Linked DNA regions of Homo sapiens. The protein of the gene in region 1 interacts with the protein of each later gene in a pairwise test. Each region holds a gene or a part of one and is shown on either strand. Other genes may lie near its edges.

Region 1 (8,075 bases):
CTCAGATTATGAGTTCAGGGGGGCATCCACTGTGGAGCAGAGAAGGGATCCACATCCAAGGAAGCATGGTTAGAGCACAGCAGAGACAGCAAGAGTGTGGGGTCAGACAGACCCAGCTTCCAGTTCCAGCCCTGGCCTCACTAGCTAAGCTGTGTGCTTTCATACAAGAGGTTTACTTTCTCTGAGTGTGCTTCCTCACCTGTGAAAGAGCTTTCCCCTGGCCGCCATAACTCTCAGGCAAGTTTAGATGTTGAAACTAGAAGGAACATGGGGGACCATTTTTAACTGAAAGTCCTTGTGAAACTGCTGGGAAATAGCCCCACTGCAGTCAAGTAACTTGCCCAAATGACAGATCCGGGCAGCCAGGCACCCTGCCTCCCAGCCCAGCCCCGCTCCAGCTAGTGTGACTTTTCAGACACACGGCCCTTCTAGAGGGCAGAACTGGGCTCAGCTCCTCAGGCCTCCCAGGCTGCTGGAGGATAGGGAGGAGTGGGTGGAAGAGTTTGTCTCCTTCCATCTCTCTCCCCACCAGAACCAAGTTAAGCACCCCCCAACCCACCCGCGGGAGCTGAATTCAAGGACCATTAACTCCCTGTTGTTCCTACCTCCTCCTCTCACCCTAGCCCTTCCCCCCAGCACATGGATCCAAAAATGCCCTAAGTGATGGGCAGTCCTAGTTCCCCTGCAACATCTGCTGGCTAATCCTGGCCTATTGAGGGCAAGGCTGCCTGTCTGTTTGGATAAGGGCACTGGAGTTAGCAGCTTCCAATCTTGCCAGGCCCAGTGGAGTAGCTGAGAGTGCTGAGCTTTGGAATCAGGCTTGCTTCGGTGCTCACAGCCCAGCCTCTCATCCACTGGCTGTGTGGCCTTGGGCAGGTAAACTGGCCAAACCCCTGCCTGGAAAAGCTGCCTGCTGATCTCTGCACCCTAGCAGTGTTGGGTGGGTTAAGTGAGAGGGAGCCTGAGAAGCTGATGGTGAGCATCCAGCTTTGCTCCCAGCCAAGAGGAGGCATGAATTCCCTCCCCAGGGCTCACCACACCCCTACAGATGAGTTTGTGCAAACTGAGAGTTACGGGGGGGGTACCCCATCACCCCCAGTTCCCTACCACTCATGTAACCCAGTATATGCATTTTCTGTTCCCTCATCAATCCTCTAGTGCAGGCCAGGGGTAACAGATGGGTCGAGGACATTGGTTCTGATGCAGGACATCTCTGAGGGAAGCCTGCAGATTCCCATCCAGACATGGGAATAAAAAAGGGATAGCAGGAGGTTAGCAGCCCTGGCCCACCATCCCCCTTCTGGCCTTACCCTTGGCCCCAAGCCTCCCTGGCCCTGGGCCCAGCCTGCCCAGCGGGCACATGCCTGCAAGCCTCACCAGGAGGCGCCAGCCTGGCAGTTGGCCTCATGCCCAGAACTGAAACACAATAGTTCTCGCCAAACTTCCTGCAAGCTTTATTCCCAGAAGGGAAGGCTGTCCCCGAGGGGAGGTGCAGGGGAGATAGAGGAGGAGCCGGTGTGACTCCTGGCCAGGTCTGCAGATGCCTAGTTGGGCTCTGGGGCTGCCAGGGAGCCAATGAGAGCCCCTGGACAATGGTCTTACTCCTGGGCCCTCCCTTTCATGGCCCTAGGGAGCTCATGAGAGGCCCTGTGCCCTCACAGCAAGGTGAATCCATCTAGGAACATGAATCACCCCTCCCAGCCTCACTGCAGGAACTTCAGGCACAGTAACCACTGGAAAGGCTGAATCACAAACTATTCCAGACATTCCCATTGGCCAGGTGGGAAAATCAAGGCTCAGGGAGGTGGTACAGAGAGGTAGGGCCAGAGCTGAGCTGAAACCTAGGTCTTTTTTTTGTTGTTGTTGTTGGAGTCTCACTCTATCACCCAGGCTGGAGTACCATCTTGGCTCACTGCAACCTCCGCCTCCTAGGTTCAAGCAATTCTTCTGCCTCAGCCTCCCGAATAGCTGGGATTACAGCCTCATGCCACCGCACCTGGCTGATTTTTGTATTTTTAGTAGAGATGGGGTTTCACCATGTTGGCCCGGCTGGTCTCGATCTCCCAGCCTCCAGTGATTTGCCCGCCTCGGCCTCCCAAAGTGCTGGGATTACAGGCGTGAGCCACCACACCCGGCCAAGTTGAAACCTAGGTCTTTTTGCCCTGAGGCTGCCAGCCTTACTCCTGTGCCACTAAACCAGGAGAGCAAGGCTGCTGGGGAGTGGGGGGGTCATGGTGGCCTGCATGAGGGTGGATATGGGAGGAAGCTGCCTACCCAGGAGGGCAGGGAACAGCACTCTGGCTGCTCCTCCTCCTTCACCTCCAGGCAGGGGCATCTTCCCCTCCCCTCATTCTCCCCTGACAGGAGCATGGGGGAGAGAAGGAGGGGCAACCCTCATCAACACCTCTGTAGATGGTGACAGGCCCTGCTGGGTCCTGGAAGAGGGTGGGGGTGGCCTCCTCAGTCAGAGGAAGGAGAGGGGGGCCTCTCTGCAGGACTGGCACTTCTGATCTGGGGGGCATGTATTCTCACCTCCTAATTAGCCATCTTGCTAGGCAAGGACCACAGCCTGCACCAGGCAAGCCAAGGGAAGTAGGGGAGCAAGGCACAGGGATGACAGTTCTGGAGTGACACCCAGGGTGGAGCAGAGGAAACAGCTAGGGCAGAGGCGGGGAGGCAGGAGGGAGCTTGGTAGGTGTGAGAAACAGCCAGGAGGCCAGTGTGGCTGGAGCGGAGTGACCCACAGGGCCCGTGGGACAAGATGAGGTCAGTTTTCTGGGCCAGCTCCTGGAGGGCCCCACGGGCCATTGCAAGGCTCTGAGAGAAGCAGCAAGCTACTTCAGGGTTCTGAGCAGAGGAGAGAGAGGGTCTGGGTCCAATCTGTAAAGGCTCACTCTGGCGATTGGATGGGGTGGACGGAGAGTCGGAGAGGAAACAGAACTCCATCAGAGGCGAGTCGGGACATACAGGTGTCTGGGACCTGAGTGCTGACCTGAGGATGCTGAGAAGGGTCAGAGTCCAGATATAGTTTGAAGGTGGAGCTGACAGGATCTGCTGAAGAACTGGATAAGGGATGTAGAGGAAGAGAGGGAAGAATCAGGAAGGACTCCAAGATGTGGGGCTTGAACAACTAGAACAATGGCATCGCCATTAACTCATTAACGAGTTGGGGCAGACAGCAGGAGGAGGGGTTTGAAGGGGAGTCCAGAGTTCGTTAGCTTTGAGAGGCCAGTAGACCCCCAAGGGGAGCTGTTGAGGGGGTGTGTGGCTCCGATTGGTGGGCACCCCACGCTACCGTGAGAAATGGATGAAATAACGTTCCTAAAACTCCTCGGGGCAGAGCAGAGCCTCAGGCACTGTGCCCTTTTCTTTCTGTCTGCCTGAGGCTTCCAGGAGCCAAGGCTCAAGGTAGGAGCAGAGCAGCTTCCAGATAGGTCGGTCCAAGTCCTCATCTCCCCACTGGGGAAACTGACTCTCAGAACATGGCTGGCTTTGGGGCCCAGCATGGTGAGAGGCAGAGCTGGTTTAAACCTACCTCTCCTGACACTCAGGGCTCCTCAGGAGCCGGCCATTCTGAGCCAAGGACCCAGCCTGCCGAGGCTGCCACCAAAACCAGAGCCCGTCCAGGGCCCAGGTCCTTGCTCCTGTCTGGGCCTCAATTTCCTCTCTATGTAATAGGACATTGTTCTCAACCCCACCCAACCAGGGCCTGCCCTGGAATGCAGGGTCTGACAGGCTGAGCTTTCCAGAGATGAGGAACAGCCTGCCAGTGGCCCCTCAGGGCCCTGCCTCCACCCTGAGGAGGTCCATTGCTCCTCTCCCAGAGCCAGGAGTGCCCCTCTATGGCCCCTCATATCAGCTGGAGGGACAAAGGGTAGGCAAGACCTCCTACCACGGGAGGCCTATCAAGGGTTAATCTGTGTCAGATTAACTGGAAGTGGTGAGTCAGCCAGCCGGCCAGTGGAGGACCAGGGCCAGGGAGGACAAGGACACCCCTGAGCCACAGCAGCCTCATGGCCACACCCCTCCCCACCCCACCGCGTTTATATGCCCAGCTCTGCCGTCTTCTCTGAGTCCCCACTGCCTCCCCAGTCAAACTGAGCCACCTCTGGGCCTTGGAAAGCTCTGCCCCTTCCCGCTTGCTGCCTTCGCTCCAGTGTTCTGCTCCTGGCCTGTCCTCCCTGACTCCACTCCTGCACCTTCTCCCAACCCTTTAAGGCCTCCTCCTCCCTGCTGTCTTCCCTGACCGCCTCAGCCGGCCAGGGCTTTGTCTTCTCTCAGCAGCTCTCGTTAAGATGGTCCTTTGGGCCATGAATCCACAAGTTACTAAGCTGCTGAGTCCCTGCTTGGGGCAACTGGTGTAGGAAGCCCCCTGCATGGGCAGGCACCTCTTCCTCCCTAGTCCGCAAGTTTCCTGGGTAGAAGACAGGTGGGGCATCTGGGACAGACACATGCATTCACCTCCACGTAATGCACTGAATGCCCCCATGAACGTGGAGAAGCTTTGTCAGCTGTAAAGTGCTGTGCACAGGAGGGACCTGAGGTGATGGGTGAGCTGAGGTGAGGTTACAAGATAGACTGAAGAAGGTGGCCCATTGTTAGGACTGCAAAAGCAGGTGGGATTTAGGAATTACAGACGAGGACACCTGCGAAAGCTAAGGCTTAGAAGTGGGACCAGACTTGAAAGGTGAGGTGGCCTGTCTCATCCTGCAGGAAGGGTAGGATCCAGGACTAGAGGAGAGGCACTGAGAGAGACGTGGGATGGGGACAGAAGTAGGGAGAAAATGGGGCCAAGGCGACTGCCTTGCAGAGTGGGCGGAAGGGTGACAGAGGGAGGCAGGCACTTGACGGAAGCTGTGAGTGGCTAGTGCTAGAGGGTGGCAGTGAAGGGAGGTGCCGCAGCAGAGGAGGCCACTCAGGGCCAGGTGCAGTAACTCATGCCTATAATCCCAGCACTCTGGGAGGCCGAGGCAGGCAGATCACCTGAGGTCAGGAGTTTGAGACCATGGGGAAATCCCGTCTCTACTAAAAATACAAAAATTAGTTGGATGTGGTGGCACATGCCTGTAATCCCAGCTACTGTGGAGGCTGAGGCAGGAGAATTGCTTGAACCTGGGAGGTAGAGGCTGCAGTGAGCCAAGATGGCACCACTGCACTCCAGCCTGGGCAACAGAGCAAGACTCTGTCTCAAAAAAAAAAAAAAACACTCAGCCCTGGCTCTCCCCACAGAACACTGAAGACCCAGAGGAGCCCCTGATCGCCTCCCAGAGCACGGAACCTGAGATCGGTCACCTGTCTCCCTCTAAGAAGGAGACCATCATGGTCACCCTCCATGGGGCTACCAACCTGCCTGCCTGCAAGGATGGCTCCGAGCCGTGGCCCTATGTGGTGGTGTAAGTAGCTGCGTGAGAGTGGGGGCAGGGGATGGGTTGGGCTGTGAGCAGAAACCAGGGGACAGCTATTTGGAATACTAGCACCCAAAGGCCCAGGACTGGGACTGTCATACCCAGAGGGGAGGAGCTGCTGTGGGCACTACCTGGCATCTCCGCTGCTGCATGGGAAGCTGCTCACCAGGGCTGGGGAAGACAGGGTGCCAACGGATCCAGAGAGTCACCCCTCCCCACCCCACACCAGTGGGGCAGGGATTGGTCACAGCTCAGCTCCAGTGGGGCAGGTTCCTTGTATGCAAAAGTCTGGGCTGGGCTCATGGGCATGATGGTCAGATTGGGGAAGGGGAAGATTTGGGACCTGCCTCTCCTGACTTCTGGGTGCCCCACCCCACCATACCCAGCCCTGGGGTAGGGTCCTCATAACCACCCTCCCCTCCTCCCCTCCTTCTCCAGTCACTTCTATTATGGGGACTCCCCTAGTTCTGGGCCTTTAATGCACCCCACACACCCCCTCCAGCCAGCTGCTGTCAGGGTACACACTTCCCCAGCCTGGCACCAAGGCCTGCCACGCCACGTCTATGCCCACCTCACGGGTCTCACTTCTTCCAGAAAGGCGCCAAGGGGCAACACAATCTCCATCCAGCCAACCTTCGCTGGGGACACTGAATATTTGCTCAATCTTTATTATAAAGCACCCTCCAAGGAGCATGTCACCCCTAGACCTTCTATAGACAGACGGCGGGAGCCTTGGTGGCCTCCCACCAAGCCACCCTATACTTCCCCTCCCCCACCAATACTGGCACCATTCAGTTCCTGCCAAGAGTCTGTTGCCCACATTTCCTTTTGGGGAGTGCCTGCCCCAGCCCACTCACCAATGCCTGCTGAAATCCTGCCTTCAAAGCCTCCTCCTCCAGGCAGCCACCAGAGTTGAGCTCTCCCTCTTCTGGAGCTCCACAGCAGTGGTGACCCTGGTCTGAAGCACTTTATATCAACATGGTTTATGCACTCCTCTGGGGCTCCCTGAGGACGGATCTCCTCCTCCATTTCCCTCAACAATGCATCCAACATAGGCCTGAGCCCAAACTTAGGAGCCAAGGAGTGACTGAGGCCAACACCTGGTTACTATGATAAGTCCCTGCCCCCCCAGGGCCCCCACTGTGAAAGGGGGGTAGAAGCTGTGCCGAGAGCAACAGGTGAAACACTTGCCTTAAAAGCCCCATTTGTGCCAGCCCAGCTCCTCGGCCATCCCTCCCCCAACTCCATTTCCGTGGTGAGGGAAGCACAGGTGGTGGGAGCAGGCTTGGCAGGGAGGCTGGTTTCTAGCGGGGAGCTCGCCTTCTCCGCTCAGCTATTTCCATAAACCAATTATCGCCGATCATCTCGGGAGATTGAGGCCCTGACTGTCACCAATCCGGCCTGGGCGGCGGGGCGGGGAGCTGGGTGGCTGTGTGGCTCCTAGGCAGGCACCGCGACCCGCGCCATCACCCGGTTGCCATGGGAACGCGCGGCAGGAGCCTAGGCGACACGAGCCTGGGTGGGGGTTCGGAGAGCCGGGCACACCCCGAGTCCTCCTGCACCCTCCCTGTGGCTGCGGCACGTGGGGCGGGAGGGTGGGGACAGAGAACGCGGGGAGGGGGGAGGGGAAAGCACTTCGCTGCACCCTTCTCCAGCTGGGAGCAGCGCCCGGGCCAGGCTGCAGCCTGCGTCCCAGGGCTCCAGACAGGCGAAGCTGCCACCAGCTCGAGGTGGTGCTAATGAGATGCAAATGATGGGAGAAGGAAGGGCTTCTGAGAATGTGAAGGCCGAGCTGTCAGGACCTGAAGGGGGCTTTCAGTGCTCACCCCCAGCCCCAGGCAGAAACCCCAGAGGGAGGATCCAGACCCTCAGAGGCCATAGAACCTGGAAAGAATTTATATCCCTGCACATCTGATTACAAATAAACAAGTAACAAAGCACACAATAGGCATAAGAAAGTTCATGAAAGTTTTCGTTTTGTTCATGATGAATATTTCAATGCTTTTTAAAAATATGTATTTGTGAAGACTTCAATGTAAGACCTGCAACTGTAACACCCCTAGAAGAAAACACAGGGGAAAGGCTCCTTTACATTGGTCTTGGCAATTAATCTTCGGATATGACACCGGAAGTACAGGCAACAGAATCAAAAATAAGTGAGACTGCATCAAACTGAAAAGCTTCTGCGCAGCAAAGGGAATAATCCACAAAACAAAAAGGCAGCCTATGGTATGGGAGAAAATATTTGCAAAACATGTATCGGATAAGGAGTTAATATCCAAAATATATGAGTAACTCATACAACTCAATAGCAAAAAGACAAGTAACCCAATTTAAAAAATGAGAAAAAGACCCGAATAGACATTTTTCCAACAAAGAAATACAAATGGCCAACAGGCACATGAAAAGGTGCACATCGCTAATCATCAGGGAAGTGCAAATCAAAGCCACAAGGAGATAGCACCTCACACCTGTTAGGATGGCTGTTCTCAAAAACACAAGAGATAAGTGTTGGTGCGGGTGTGGAGAAAAGAGAACGCTTGTACACTGTTGGTGGGAATACGCAGTAAAATGGTGCAGCCATTATGGAGCACAGCACGGAGGTTCCTCAAGAAATTGAAAATAAAACTACCATATGATCCCGCAATCTCACTACTGGGTATATATCCA
Region 2 (5,625 bases), on another chromosome or scaffold:
AAATACAGTAAGCCAGCATGTCTTAAACAGAGGTTATGTTAAATTCATTTATAAAATATTGGATTAAACAAAGGTACTATGGTGGGACTTCTCAGGACTTTCGGCAATGTGTGTTGTGAGTCTACGAGAGAAGGGACGTGATGTGCTCTTTAACGGCACAGCAGTTGTGGCAGAGGCGCTGTGATTTCGTCACCCAGAGGCCATCCTTTTCTGCCCTGCTTCCTTCTTCTTTGTTAGTAGAGGGCCTGGTTCCCCCTGTTGAGGCTGAAAATGCCAAATGCCCAGTTTCCCAGCCTTTACTGCAGCAGGATCATGGACATATCCCTAGTTCTGGCCGGTGGGATCCAAGCAGAAGTCTACTGAGGACTTTGGAAAAGTTTTTCTGACTACAATAGACATGCAATAGACTGTCTTGTTTTTTGATGTGATTGTGTGAGGACATGGTGCCTGGAGCCACAGAAGCCTCTTGTAAACATAGAGGACACATGGCTGAGGACAAGAGCCAACATGCTGAGGATGGTGGGGTACAGAGATACAAACAACCTGGGCTCTGGACTCCATCCCTGAGCTGCTGAATGTACTAACTCTGCACCTTGGATTTCTGGTCATGCAAGACAACACATGTTCTCACTGTTGAAGCCACTTGTAATAAGATGCTCTCTTTACCTGCAGCTGGAAGGATCTTGCCTAATAAGAGTGGTAAGCTGGTCTCTCTGAGTCAGACAGGCTAGAATTCACTCCTGGCTCTACCAGCAGTAATTATGGTTCTCTTCAAAGCTATTTACTCATTTAGGAGATGGAGATGTTAATAACGGCTACCTCTTGGGTTGTTTCAGAAGCTTAAATGAGATGATGGGTGTGAAGTGCTCACATAGAACTTGGAACATTGCTGGTGCTTAGTAATAAGGAACTATTATTATTATTATTATTATTATTATTATTATTATTTTTGATCACAGAAGTTCTTTGTTGTTGGAACATCCTTTACCATCTTGAGGGATCCTGCATTCTACAGAAAAGAATCTAAGTGATGTTTACCTTTACCAAACTTTCTCATTTTACAGAAGGAGAAACTGAGGCCAAAGGAGTGGCTGCTGTTTTGGTGCTTTCATTTTGAAAAATGTGCAGGGTTCAGCCTCTTCCCATGTCAGTCATTTCCACTCCCACACAAGAAACAACAGAAGCACACAGGTTTAGGGTTGAAATGATGTGCTTTTATGGGAAACAAAAATATCCAACAACAATAACAAAAGCCCTTCAATCTCGCCAAGTTCTTAACCAGTGACAATAAGGCAACTTCCATGATTGCGTCTGGCTGGGGATGATTCTAAAGGGTCAGGAAAGTGAAAAGACATTGGCCAAAAAGAGAAGTTGCAGGGAGGGCTGACATCCTACATGAGAACACAGCAGACTTCCCTCTGGCCCCTCACCCCATCACCCCTTCAATTTAGAATCTCCCCCCAATCTACAAAGATCCTTCCTGAATTTCCTCAGATGCAATCTCTTCCAGAAAGCTTTCCTGGGTCTGCTCTAGCTGCATATGACTTTTCATTAACATCACGCACACTTTCTCATTCCTTCTCCGATCACTTTCTGCCTTACATCCGTTATGTTTGGGTACATGCCTTACGATACCCGCTATTGGTAGGCATATCCCTGAGACCGAGTCCCAGGTTGACTCACCCCGTGCTCCCCTCCCCCTCCCCCATTCAGTGCTCAGTATTCAGCAGGTGCTCAACATCAGAGGTGCTCAGTGAGGGTTTGTTCAATTTAAGTCAGTTCTACATTTGCCATGTCACATCGCCAGCCTCTTGAGAGTCATTATTGTCATTTTCACTTCTTCATCCTTCCTCCATGATCTCAAAATGGTCCGACTCAAGGCTTCTCCAAGAAGGAACAGCCCCCACCAAACATTACCCATTCAAGGTGAAAGGTTTGGAGAGGAGAAGAGAGGTTAAGCTTTCTCCCCTGTTCAGGGAGGCGAGCAGGAAGGGAAGCCACTGGGAAAATCCAGGATGGCCATGAGCGGTGTTGGCCAACACTTCATTTTGGAATCTCATAAGCAGCCACTCTTCCAAAAGTTTCCCTGTGAAACATGGCCAACTTTGCAGCAGGAGCCGAGGACTGGCGGGGGTATGGTATGGTTGCCCTGCCAGCCCACAGACCAGAGGCATAGACCAAGAACCTTTCTTTGAGACACGGCCTATTTTCTCTCTGGAGGATGATGAGAGTTGTCTGTCTGGTTGTTCAGTTGGAGCTCTGGTGGGAACATTAGCCCTGCGGTGTGTTGAGTTGTCAGGCACATAGATTGTAATAAGGCTAAAGAATACAAGCTGCAATCATGGGCTTCTCCTTGAAAGAGGGAAGGGTCAGGAGGTGCTGGGAGCAGTGAGGGAGAGAGGAGGGTCCCAAGAAATCCTGCAGCTCTGATTCTAACAGGTGCCCTGCTCCATCTCCCACTTCCGCTCCCTCTCTTTTCCTCTGGTTCTCCAAGTCCAGGTCAGGCAAAGGGGCCAGTTGGAAGTGGTGGAGGGAAGGGAAGGGCCTTTTCCTTTTCCTACCAGGAATCCTAGATTTGGACAAGGGAGAGGTTACAATCCAGGGCAGAAGGAGGAGGGTTAAGGAGCTGAGGAGAGGCCTAGGCCCTGTCCACTTCTGTTGACTGGTGTAATGACTAGATTTGAGGCTCACCCTTTTAACTGCATTGCCCCAAGAGAGCACTGAGCTCCTAATTGGGGGTGTTGAGAAAGTTCTTCGTGGGCGCTCAAAGGTGCTCACTGATTTGGGGAGACTGCTGCAGATCTTCCCATGGGAGGGCCCCTCTGGGGCCAATAAGGTGTGGAAACCACATGGTCAGCATCAGCCCTAGAAATTTAAGAAAGGGGCCACGAAGCAGAGAGAAGAGAGACTTCTTCAGGCACCTTCTTTAGGAAAGAGAGTTGGACCTTGGGGCACTCAAGTTAGGACAGATGTTTCAGTATAAAAAGGATCCCCAATAAAAGGACAGAGTCCCCTCAAATCCCTTCCCAGATCCCACAGCACTTAGAAAAGAGAAAGTAAGGAGCATAAAAATATCTCGATGACGTGGGCTTGCCTGACAGTACAGAAAAGCAAGTCTCATGGCAGGCAGTGTGTCCCATTACACAAGAGAGGATTATACCGAGCTTCAGTAGAGAGATTTTACATATATCTTTATATAAATGCATATATATTTATAGAGCCTCTGCCTAGAACAGCCGGGCTTGCTTCTTCAGTTCATTCCTCTTCCAGAGGGCCAGCCGGTCAAACTCAGAGATGGTCATGCCAAAGACTTGGTAGAACTCTTCCTGGGACAGGTGGCGCTGAAGGAGGCAGGGCAGGCGGGGGTGGGGGGACAGAGAAAGAGAGCAGCATGAGGATGCAAGATGCAGGGGTAGCTGGAGGCAGCAGTGGGTGCTGCATGTTCCCTCTGGGCACCCTGTGCCTTGCATGGTGCCTGAGCCTGGGGAATGTGTGATGAATATTTGTTGAATGAGTGAATATGGAATGAACATTTTCCCAGGGAGGACTCTGGAGCTGATTTGGCTGAAGAGGCCTCCCCTGCCTATGACTCAAGTGGGACTTCCGCTTCCACTACACACCCCTTGGAGTCCCCTGTTGACCCCTCCGCTTTCTGCATGCCTGATCCATGTATTTGCATCCAGAAGTGTGTGTGGATTCATGTTATCCCACTCCCCGTTGAGAGAAAAAGGAGCCATGTCCAAGATTTTAGGGGATATTTCCTCTTACTGATGTTTTAACAAATGATCTGGAAGGCTGTTCATCAGGCCAGTCAATGAAAAAAATTTCTGCTCTTAATTTTTGATTCACCAAAATGTCCTTTTATCTTTTTCTGATATGAAAACAAATATGCTTTATAATCAAACCCTTGTCTGCATTCTATAGTGGATTTTCCCCTCTTTCTGCCCTCCTTCCCTTCCTCCCTTCTAAGCAGCTTTAAAAGTGTGATACATTGTCAAAAGCTTTTAGAGTTAGAAATATACAGCACTTAAAATGTGGCAAAATGTTAACAATTGTTGTATTTAGTGAATGGTAGATGGATGTTCATTTTACTATTCTTGAAACTTTCCTGGATAGCTACAGTTTTTCAAAATGAAATTTAAAATTAAGTTTACAAAGAGAAATATATGGCATATATACTGCTTACAAACTTAATGGATTCACTTGAGCTGGCTTGTTGGTAGCAATTACATGAGCTAATTGGGTGCTGAAGGAGATTCAGTGAAAATTATTTATGTGACCACAGTCAGTTCTCTGGCTTGTTGTCACTGTGAACTATTTTTTTTTTTTTTTGAGACAGAGTTTTGCTTTGTCACCCAGGCTGCAGTGCATGATCTCAACTCACTGCAAACTCCACCACCCCAGTTCAAGTGATTCTCCTGCCTCAGCCTTCCAAGTAGCTGGGACTACAGGTGCACACAATCACGTTGGGCTAATTTTTTTGTATTTTAGTAGAGATGGGGTTTCACCATGTTCCCTAGGCTGGTCTTGAACTCCTGAGCTCAGGCAATCTGCCCTCCTCAGCCTCTCAAAGTGCTGGGATTACAGGCGTAAGCCACGGCGCATGGCCATGTGAACTAACATTTTCCCCATACCTTCAGAATTTCAAACAAAGGTAATATTGATAATTTTTGGTCAATAATTTTTGAAGTAGTAGAGCTGGGACCGAAGTCCAGGCAAAATGCATTACATTCTCACTGCCCCTCTTGGTCAACCCCATTAAAAAAATTCATAAGTAAGTCTATTATGAAAAATGTCAAAACTACACAAAAGAGAGAAAATAGGACAAAGCCCATGTCCACTATCCAGATCCTGTAATTGTGAGGTTTTCCACATTTGCTTCATTTACCTATTTTATTTTCTGAAATATTTTAAAGCAAAGCCTAGACATTGTGTCAGTTCATTCCTATGCACTTCAGAATGTTTCTCAAAACACACTGAATATTTTCTCACATTGTGGTTACACAATGCCATGAGTAAACTCAAGAAAATCTAACAGGAATTCTTCAGAATTCCCTGATACCTGTCCATTACAAAGTTCCTGTCTTGAAAATGTCTTTTCACAGTTGGTTTATCTGAACTAGGACCCAGGCAGTGCCTACACATCACATTTGCTTGTTAGATCCCTAAGACCCTGCCTCTTTCTTTGTACTATTGACTTGTCCATGTTTGTGCTACTCAAGTGAGTGCTGAAAGACACCTTGGATAGGAGAGTCCCCTTCTCTGCTCCTTCCATAGTAAAGACAGAGGGAAACTGCACTTTGGAATCGTTTGTTATTGTTGTTGGAGGGTGGTGGTCTGTATTGGTTCTCCAGTTGAGTTTCTCTATCATGTTAAAAAATCTTTGTTATGAGTCTTGATATAAAAGAATGGTAGACTCACCCTCAAGTAATGTGTTCACAAGCAGGACACACTGGAAGGAGACCAGGGCTTCTCTCCTCTAAGGGCCAGCTGGGGCCTCCTTTCTCCCTCCAGTTCTCAAGGCCCCTAATGCCACTACTGTCCATCTGACATTTGCCACAGAAAGGCGTTAAAGCAGGAAGGTTAACAGTGCAGCTCTTACAGCCAGGGAGAAATGGCCATGTG
Region 3 (6,382 bases), on another chromosome or scaffold:
CCCTCCTATATGGTTAGAGGAAATATAAAGAACATGCAATCACCCAAGCAAAGTGAGGACAAAGATGGTTTCTCTTCAGTGCTGAGTCTAGAGAGCAGAGAAGCAGGGCAAGCCGGAGCCAGATATGACTGGAGAAAGCAGCTGGCCACGTGTGAGGCCAGGTTACACAATCAGTTCAACTGCCCATCAGTGGGGGCTGTGACGACAGAACCCAAGACCCCTTCAGCTGAGGCTGAGCCCAGGCTAGGGCTAACAGCACCGCAATGATGCCAATACACTGCCCTTCATTCCACTGGCTCAGCCCACCCCAAGGTCAGGCAGGCAGATGACCTCCATGCCCCAGTAGCTTGACAATGTCTCTTCTAGAGGCAAGGCTGGTGCTGCTATTGCTTCCTACACGTGAGGGATACAAGTGCCATAGGAAAACGCCAATCCGAGAGTCCACAGCCCTCAGTAGGAGGCAACCACTGCCCAGGGAGCAGCAGACATGAGGCAAAGGAGACGCGGGGAGAGATTTAATTTACATAGCAGCCACTTGGGGTCCAGTCAGAGCTGGGGCAGTGGGGGAATCTATAACCCCAGAGGGTACCCCCCAGACCCCCACCCCCGGGAGACCAGTCCTCACCAACCCTTGGATGGGCTCCCAAGGTTGTGCAGAAGATGCTCCAGTCAAAAGGATAGAGACATTTGGGAATAAGGCTGTCCCCAAGTTGGGGGAAGTCCACGGCCTGGAGTGGTGGCCTACATGGTGGCCCAGGGGTCTGAGAGACCAGTCCATGTCCTGGGCGAGTCCTCAGCCTGGTGGCCCTAGAGGAAGCCTTCGCGGCGGAACTGTTCCTGGAGGAGGGCGCGGTACTGGTCAAATCCTCCTTCCACACGGGTGACGCCGCCTCCTTCGCATACCCACAACTCCCGGCACACCAGCCTGATAAAGCGCTCATCGTGGGACACCAGAATCACACCACCCTGAAAGACAGGAGGGCAGGAGGTGCTCAGGGGGACACAAGAGGCACCGAGGCCTGGGAGGAGTGGTCAGGGTGAAGGCACACTCACCCTGAAATTGTTGAGGGCACGGCCCAGAGCCTCAATGGTCTCCATGTCCAGGTGGTTTGTGGGTTCATCCAGAATGTAGAAGTTGGGGCTGGAAGGCAGAACCAGGAAGGTGGGCAGTGAAGGGGTGCGGTGAGAGAAAATAAAGCCTTCTGATACAGTTTTCTACTGGGCAAGAAGGGGAAATGGGAGGGGAAGAGCTCTGGAAAATGAGGCCTCACCAGGGCATAGTCATCTGAGCAAAGGCCACTCGGCTCTTCTGGCCCCCAGACAGGCTGGCAAGAGGACGCATGGCCAGTTCTCCGGAGATGCCATACCGACCCAGCTGGTGACGGTACTCCTCCTCAGGCCGCCCTGGAAAAGGACTCCCCAGATCAGGTGGCTTCTTGGCCCAACACCCTCCCTGTGCCCTCCAGCCACACCTCCAAGTCCCCATGTCCTTCCATCTAGGCTTGGCGGGGCTGCTCTGCACGCACCCCAAGGCAGGCCTAGCTGCCGGGGTCAGCCTCAGCCCTCTTCCCTACTCAAACTCTTCCCCCGACTCAAATCCCTAACTCACCAGGAAACTTGCGTGCCAGCAGTTCCACAGCACTGACGTTTAGGTCCAGCTGCTCCACATGGTGCTGGCTGAAATAGCCAATCTTCAGATTCCTGCAGGCAGAAGCCGAGGTGGAAAAACAGACAAAGGCAATGGCCACGAAGGAGCGCAGGCAGCATGGGTGCCTGCAAATGTGCTCATGGGGGCAGGGGTGCGGGTGGGCCTGACCTGTGAGCGTGTCTGATGCCCCGAACAGGTGCCAGGTCCCCCAAAAGCAGCTTCAGCATGGTAGACTTCCCAGCCCCATTCTCTCCAACCTTAAGAAACATGAAAATGTCATACAGTGTGTGCCAGAAAAATAAATACGGTATGTTCTCATTCATATGTGGGCACTAAAAAGTGTTGAGCACATAGAAGTAGAGAGCAGAGTTGTGGTTACTAGAGGCTGGGAAGGATAAGGGGGGAGGAGGGGAATTGAGAGAGGGGTTCGGGAGAGGTTGGTTAACTGAAACAAAATTGCAGTTAGATAGGAGGAATGGAGGAATAAGTTCTAGGGTTCTACAGCACTGCAGGGACGCTACAGTTCACAATGATAGACTGTACATTTTCAAAAAGCTAGAAGATTCTGAATGTTCCCAACATAAAGTGATAAATGTTTATGATGAATATGCTAATTACCCTGATTTGATCATTACACATTGTATACATGCATGGAAGTATCACTCTGTACCCCATAAATATGTACAATTATGTATCAATAAAAAGAGCACCGCTGTGTGTAACACAGAGGAGAAGGAAATTAGAAGGGGTCCCAGGCAGTCCCCAGTCCCGATGACTCCTTCAACAACCAAAAAAATATTTTTAAGGACTCTAGCCGGGCACGGTGGCTCAGGCCTGTATTCCCAGCACTTTGGGAGGCTGAGGCAGGCAGATCATTTGAGGTCAGGAGTTTGAGACCAGCCTGGCCAATATGGTAAAACCCCATCTCTACTAAAAATGCAAAAAATTAGCTGGGCATGGTGGCGGGTGCCTGTAATCTCAGCTACTTGTGGGGCTGAGGGAGAACTGTTTGAACCCGGGAGGCGAAAGCTGCGGTGAGCCAAGATTGTGCCATTGCACTCCAGCCGGGGCAACAGGGCAGGACTCTGTCTCCGAAAAAAAAAAAAAAGGAACTCTAACTCTACAGAAAAATGCATATACTAAGGTGAGCAATACTTGAGTATTTGCTAAGTGCTGGGGACTTACTTTTCCCAAGAACCAAGTGAGGTAGATGTCAGCGCCATCTTAAGAGTTAGGAAGCTGCTTGGTAACCAAGCTAGGAAATGGCATAGTCAAGATCCGAAGTCTGACCCTGAAGCCCATGCTCTCTCCTCAATGTCTCCAGGTTTAGAAAACTCAGAACCGAGACCAATAAGGTAAAGCACTGCTTTAAGTATTTTTAAGTATTTTTAAAACACTATACACTAGGCTCTTCCTCCCTGAAGAGCAGCGCTGTGCGGCCAGAGGACAGGGCTAGTGTAAGTCCTGCAAAATCCTTAGCCCGGGCCCTCACTCCTGTTCCACAGACCTCGTCCCTTTACAGCCTGAGGATCTGGGCCAATCCACACCACACACTTAGACAGGAGAGTCCCAGCTCGCAGCACAGAGAAACAGCAGCCTTACCACACAGATGCGAGACTCGAGATCAGCAGACACAGAGAGGCGACTGAAGATGACGTGCTTCGGATCGTAGTAGAAATCCACCTCATCTAGCTGCAGAATTGGCGGCGAGAACTTCTCAAACCCATCAGGGAACCTGCAGGAGGTAGGGGTGAGGATGTGGGGGCAGCTGGAAGCAAGCAATTCCCCACCAGCCCCACTGGCCCAGCACTTACTTCATTACGACCTCTGATTCCTTGTCCACAGGCTTCAGCTCAGGCCTGGGAGAAGAGATGAGGTAGACTAGATTTATTACTTAAAAAAATAACTTCCTACACGAGTAATATATGTTCAGAGAAAACTTAGAAAGGGCTTGTACTCCTACCACTCAGGTATCATTACTTTAGAGTCCATTCTTCTCATTTACTGTATGCTAAAAAATAGAATTAGGCTTTTTGTGACTTTTTATCCCCAGTTACTATATTGTGATATGTTTCCACGTCGCAAACATCTAAGCTTTATGATTTTAAGCTTCCTGCCAGCACTTATAGAAAGGGCACTTCAAAATTAAACTCCCAATGCACATTATCATTAGTTATTAAGGCAATGCAAATCAAAACCACAATGAGCTATCACTTCACAGCCACTAGGATGGCTAAAACTAAAAAAAAAAAAGTCAATAACAGTGCTGCCAAAGACATGGAGAAATTGGAACTCTCATCCCTTGTTGGTAGGAATGTAAAATGATGTTGTTGCTTTAGAAAACAGTTTGACAGTTCCTCAAAACATTAATTTGGAATTACCAGGTAACCCAGCAATTCTGCGCCTAGGTATACACCCAAGCAAGCTGAAAACATATGTCCACACAAAAATTTGTACACCAATGTTCACAGCAACATTATTCATAATAACCAAAATGGAAACAACCCAAATGGCCCCTCATGACTCAATAAACAAAATGCTGTATATCCACACAACAGAATATTATCCAGCCACGAAAAGAAATGAAGCTCTGACGCACGCTACAATATGGATGAGCCTCACACATGACGCCAGGTAAAAGACACCAGGCACAAAGGTCATATTGTATGATTCCATTTATATGAAATGCCCAGAATAAGCAGATACGTAGAAGCAGAAACAGAAAGTAAATTAGTGGTTGCCATGTGCTAGTCAAGATTAGCCCTCCAAGAACAGTGTGGAATACTCTGCTTCCCAGCAGAGGAGGAAGTCACAGTTGGCTTCTAGCGAAGGGGAGACCTAGAATGGTAGGGCAAGGGTGGCGTGCAAATGCGGAAGGAGACGAAGAGAACAGGAGTCAGGCCCTGGCCAAGGATGCTGTACTCACAGCTTCTCCAGCATCTTGAGTTTACTCTGCACTTGAGAGGCCCTGTTGGCATTGTAGCGAAACCGGTCAATGAAAACCTGCAGGTGGAGGAGTGTAGGCATTGGTCAAATTCCCCCACTATCCCCCACTCTGGAACCCCTGGGATGGGACCCCCAGCCCTGCCAGGCCCCACACCTGGATGTGCTGGCGATACTGCTGCTGCGCCTCATATTCACGCTGCTGGTTGAGCAGCCGCTCCTGCTTACTCTTGATGAAGGTCTCAAAGTCTCCCCGGTAACCATCTAGCCGCTGGCTGTGCAGGTGGATGATGTCTGTGGCGATGGCATTCAAGAAGTTGCGGTCGTGGGAGACGACTAGGATGGTGGAGGGCCACGTCTGAGGGGTCACAGGACAGCAGGCCCGGTTTGGGAGGGCAGTCAGTTCTCAGGCCCCCAGGTATCTTGGAGGCCGCCTTTCCCCAACACACTCCAGCACCCACAGGCACTCACCTGCAGGTAATTCTCCAGCCACAGGATGGCCCTGACATCCAGCATGTTTGTAGGTTCTGGAGAAGCAGGGGAGCACACACTTGGGATTGAAGGGCTGGAGAACTAGGAACTTGGATGCTACCACCCCTGCCCATCCTAAAGTCAGGGTGCCCCATTTCAAACTCACCATCTAACAGCAGAAGATCTGGCCTATGAAAAACAATACATGGCCTGAGGTTTTAGGTCAGCAACTCATGCCACCTCCCAAGAGCTAAGACCAATCTTCCATAGGGCTTCATACACTGGCCCAGGAGACTCACCTAGCAAAGAGGGCCCGGGCCAGGGCCAGCCTCATCCTCCAGCCACCTGAGAACTCCCTAAAGAATGATGGAGTCACATTATGGGTGGGTGTTCATCAGGGCAGGAAGGGGCTGAGACAACAGGGTTCAAAGCCAAGAATGGCAAGGGTCACTCACCGGGTGGGCTGCTGCTGCATTTTAGGGGTAAAGCCAAGCCCAGCGAGAATGACTGATGCCCTAGTAGAGAAGAAATCGAAGAACTCAGTTGGAACAGTCCACAGAAGGGAAAGGAAATCTGAAGGAGGGAGGGGGAGCTTTAAATACCTGGCAGGTGCCTTGTCAGCCTCAATCTCCTCCAGTTTGGCATAGATTTCTGCCAGCTCTGCAGCTTCAGAGCCCTCCGCCCTGGAGGGAGGAGAAACAGCAATTGGCCTAAGCAGGGGCAGTCTAGGAGGATGTCCTGCACCCTATACCGTTGGAAAGGCCATTGGCTACCTTGTGGCTGGAAGAGGAAGAGAATACAGGAAGGGTTTGCACAGTGCTCATTACCTTGGGCACTATGGAAATGGGCACTGTGGAAAGAACAAGAAAGGGCAATGGGCACTGTGGAAAGAACAAGGGCTTCTGAGTCCCAGAGTGCCAAGTTCTAAGCTCTGCTGATTACTAGGATGTACATGCAAATTATGGATTGTTCCAGGACGGCAGGCGCTCTGTAAGCGACAGCGGCTGCTAGTTACTCCCTAGCCGGGAGTCCTCACCTGCCAGCAGCAATCTGGGCAGTGAGCTCCCGCTCCCTCCGTAGCAAATCCTCTCGCACACTGTCACTCTCCAGCACACTCTGCAGGGCAGGAGTGTCATCTCCAGCAACCTCTTGCTCAACGTGCAGCAGGGAAATGTGGGCTGGAACCCGCAGACTCCGGGTGGCCAGCATCTTCAGTAACGTTGTCTTCCCCAACCCATTCCGCCCCACCAGCCCGTAACGGCGGCCCCATGCCAGGTTCACATCCGCTCCAGCCAGCAGTACTCTGCAGGAGTGGAGAAA

Evidence for each region.
Region 2: the proteins of CCDC33 (region 1) and ABLIM3 interact in a two-hybrid assay, tested with the Homo sapiens proteins (2 studies listed by BioGRID and IntAct).
Region 3: the proteins of CCDC33 (region 1) and ABCF3 interact in a two-hybrid assay, tested with the Homo sapiens proteins (2 studies listed by BioGRID and IntAct).

The regions. Positions count from the first base shown.
Region 1 is NC_000015.10:74,238,756-74,246,830, forward strand, and holds part of CCDC33 (coiled-coil domain-containing protein 33), read left to right. Parts: intron 1-5,229; coding exon 5,230-5,393; intron 5,394-8,075.
Region 2 is NC_000005.10:149,256,007-149,261,631, reverse strand, and holds the end of ABLIM3 (actin-binding LIM protein 3), read right to left. Parts: intron 3,342-5,625; coding exon 3,228-3,341; 3' UTR 2,087-3,227; coding exon of another isoform or gene 2,057-2,086; 3' UTR 1,090-2,056; downstream 1-1,089. UniProt on the Homo sapiens protein: May act as scaffold protein. May stimulate ABRA activity and ABRA-dependent SRF transcriptional activity.
Region 3 is NC_000003.12:184,188,124-184,194,505, reverse strand, and holds the end of ABCF3 (ATP-binding cassette sub-family F member 3), read right to left. Parts: intron 6,366-6,382; coding exon 6,099-6,365; intron 5,843-6,098; coding exon of another isoform or gene 5,836-5,842; intron 5,746-5,835; coding exon 5,665-5,745; intron 5,578-5,664; coding exon 5,518-5,577; intron 5,419-5,517; coding exon 5,362-5,418; intron 5,252-5,361; coding exon 5,229-5,251; intron 5,119-5,228; coding exon 5,063-5,118; intron 4,950-5,062; coding exon 4,749-4,949; intron 4,652-4,748; coding exon 4,575-4,651; intron 3,508-4,574; coding exon 3,463-3,507; intron 3,384-3,462; coding exon 3,251-3,383; intron 1,906-3,250; coding exon 1,817-1,905; intron 1,702-1,816; coding exon 1,610-1,701; intron 1,405-1,609; coding exon 1,272-1,404; intron 1,142-1,271; coding exon 1,054-1,141; intron 967-1,053; coding exon 808-966; 3' UTR 501-807; downstream 1-500.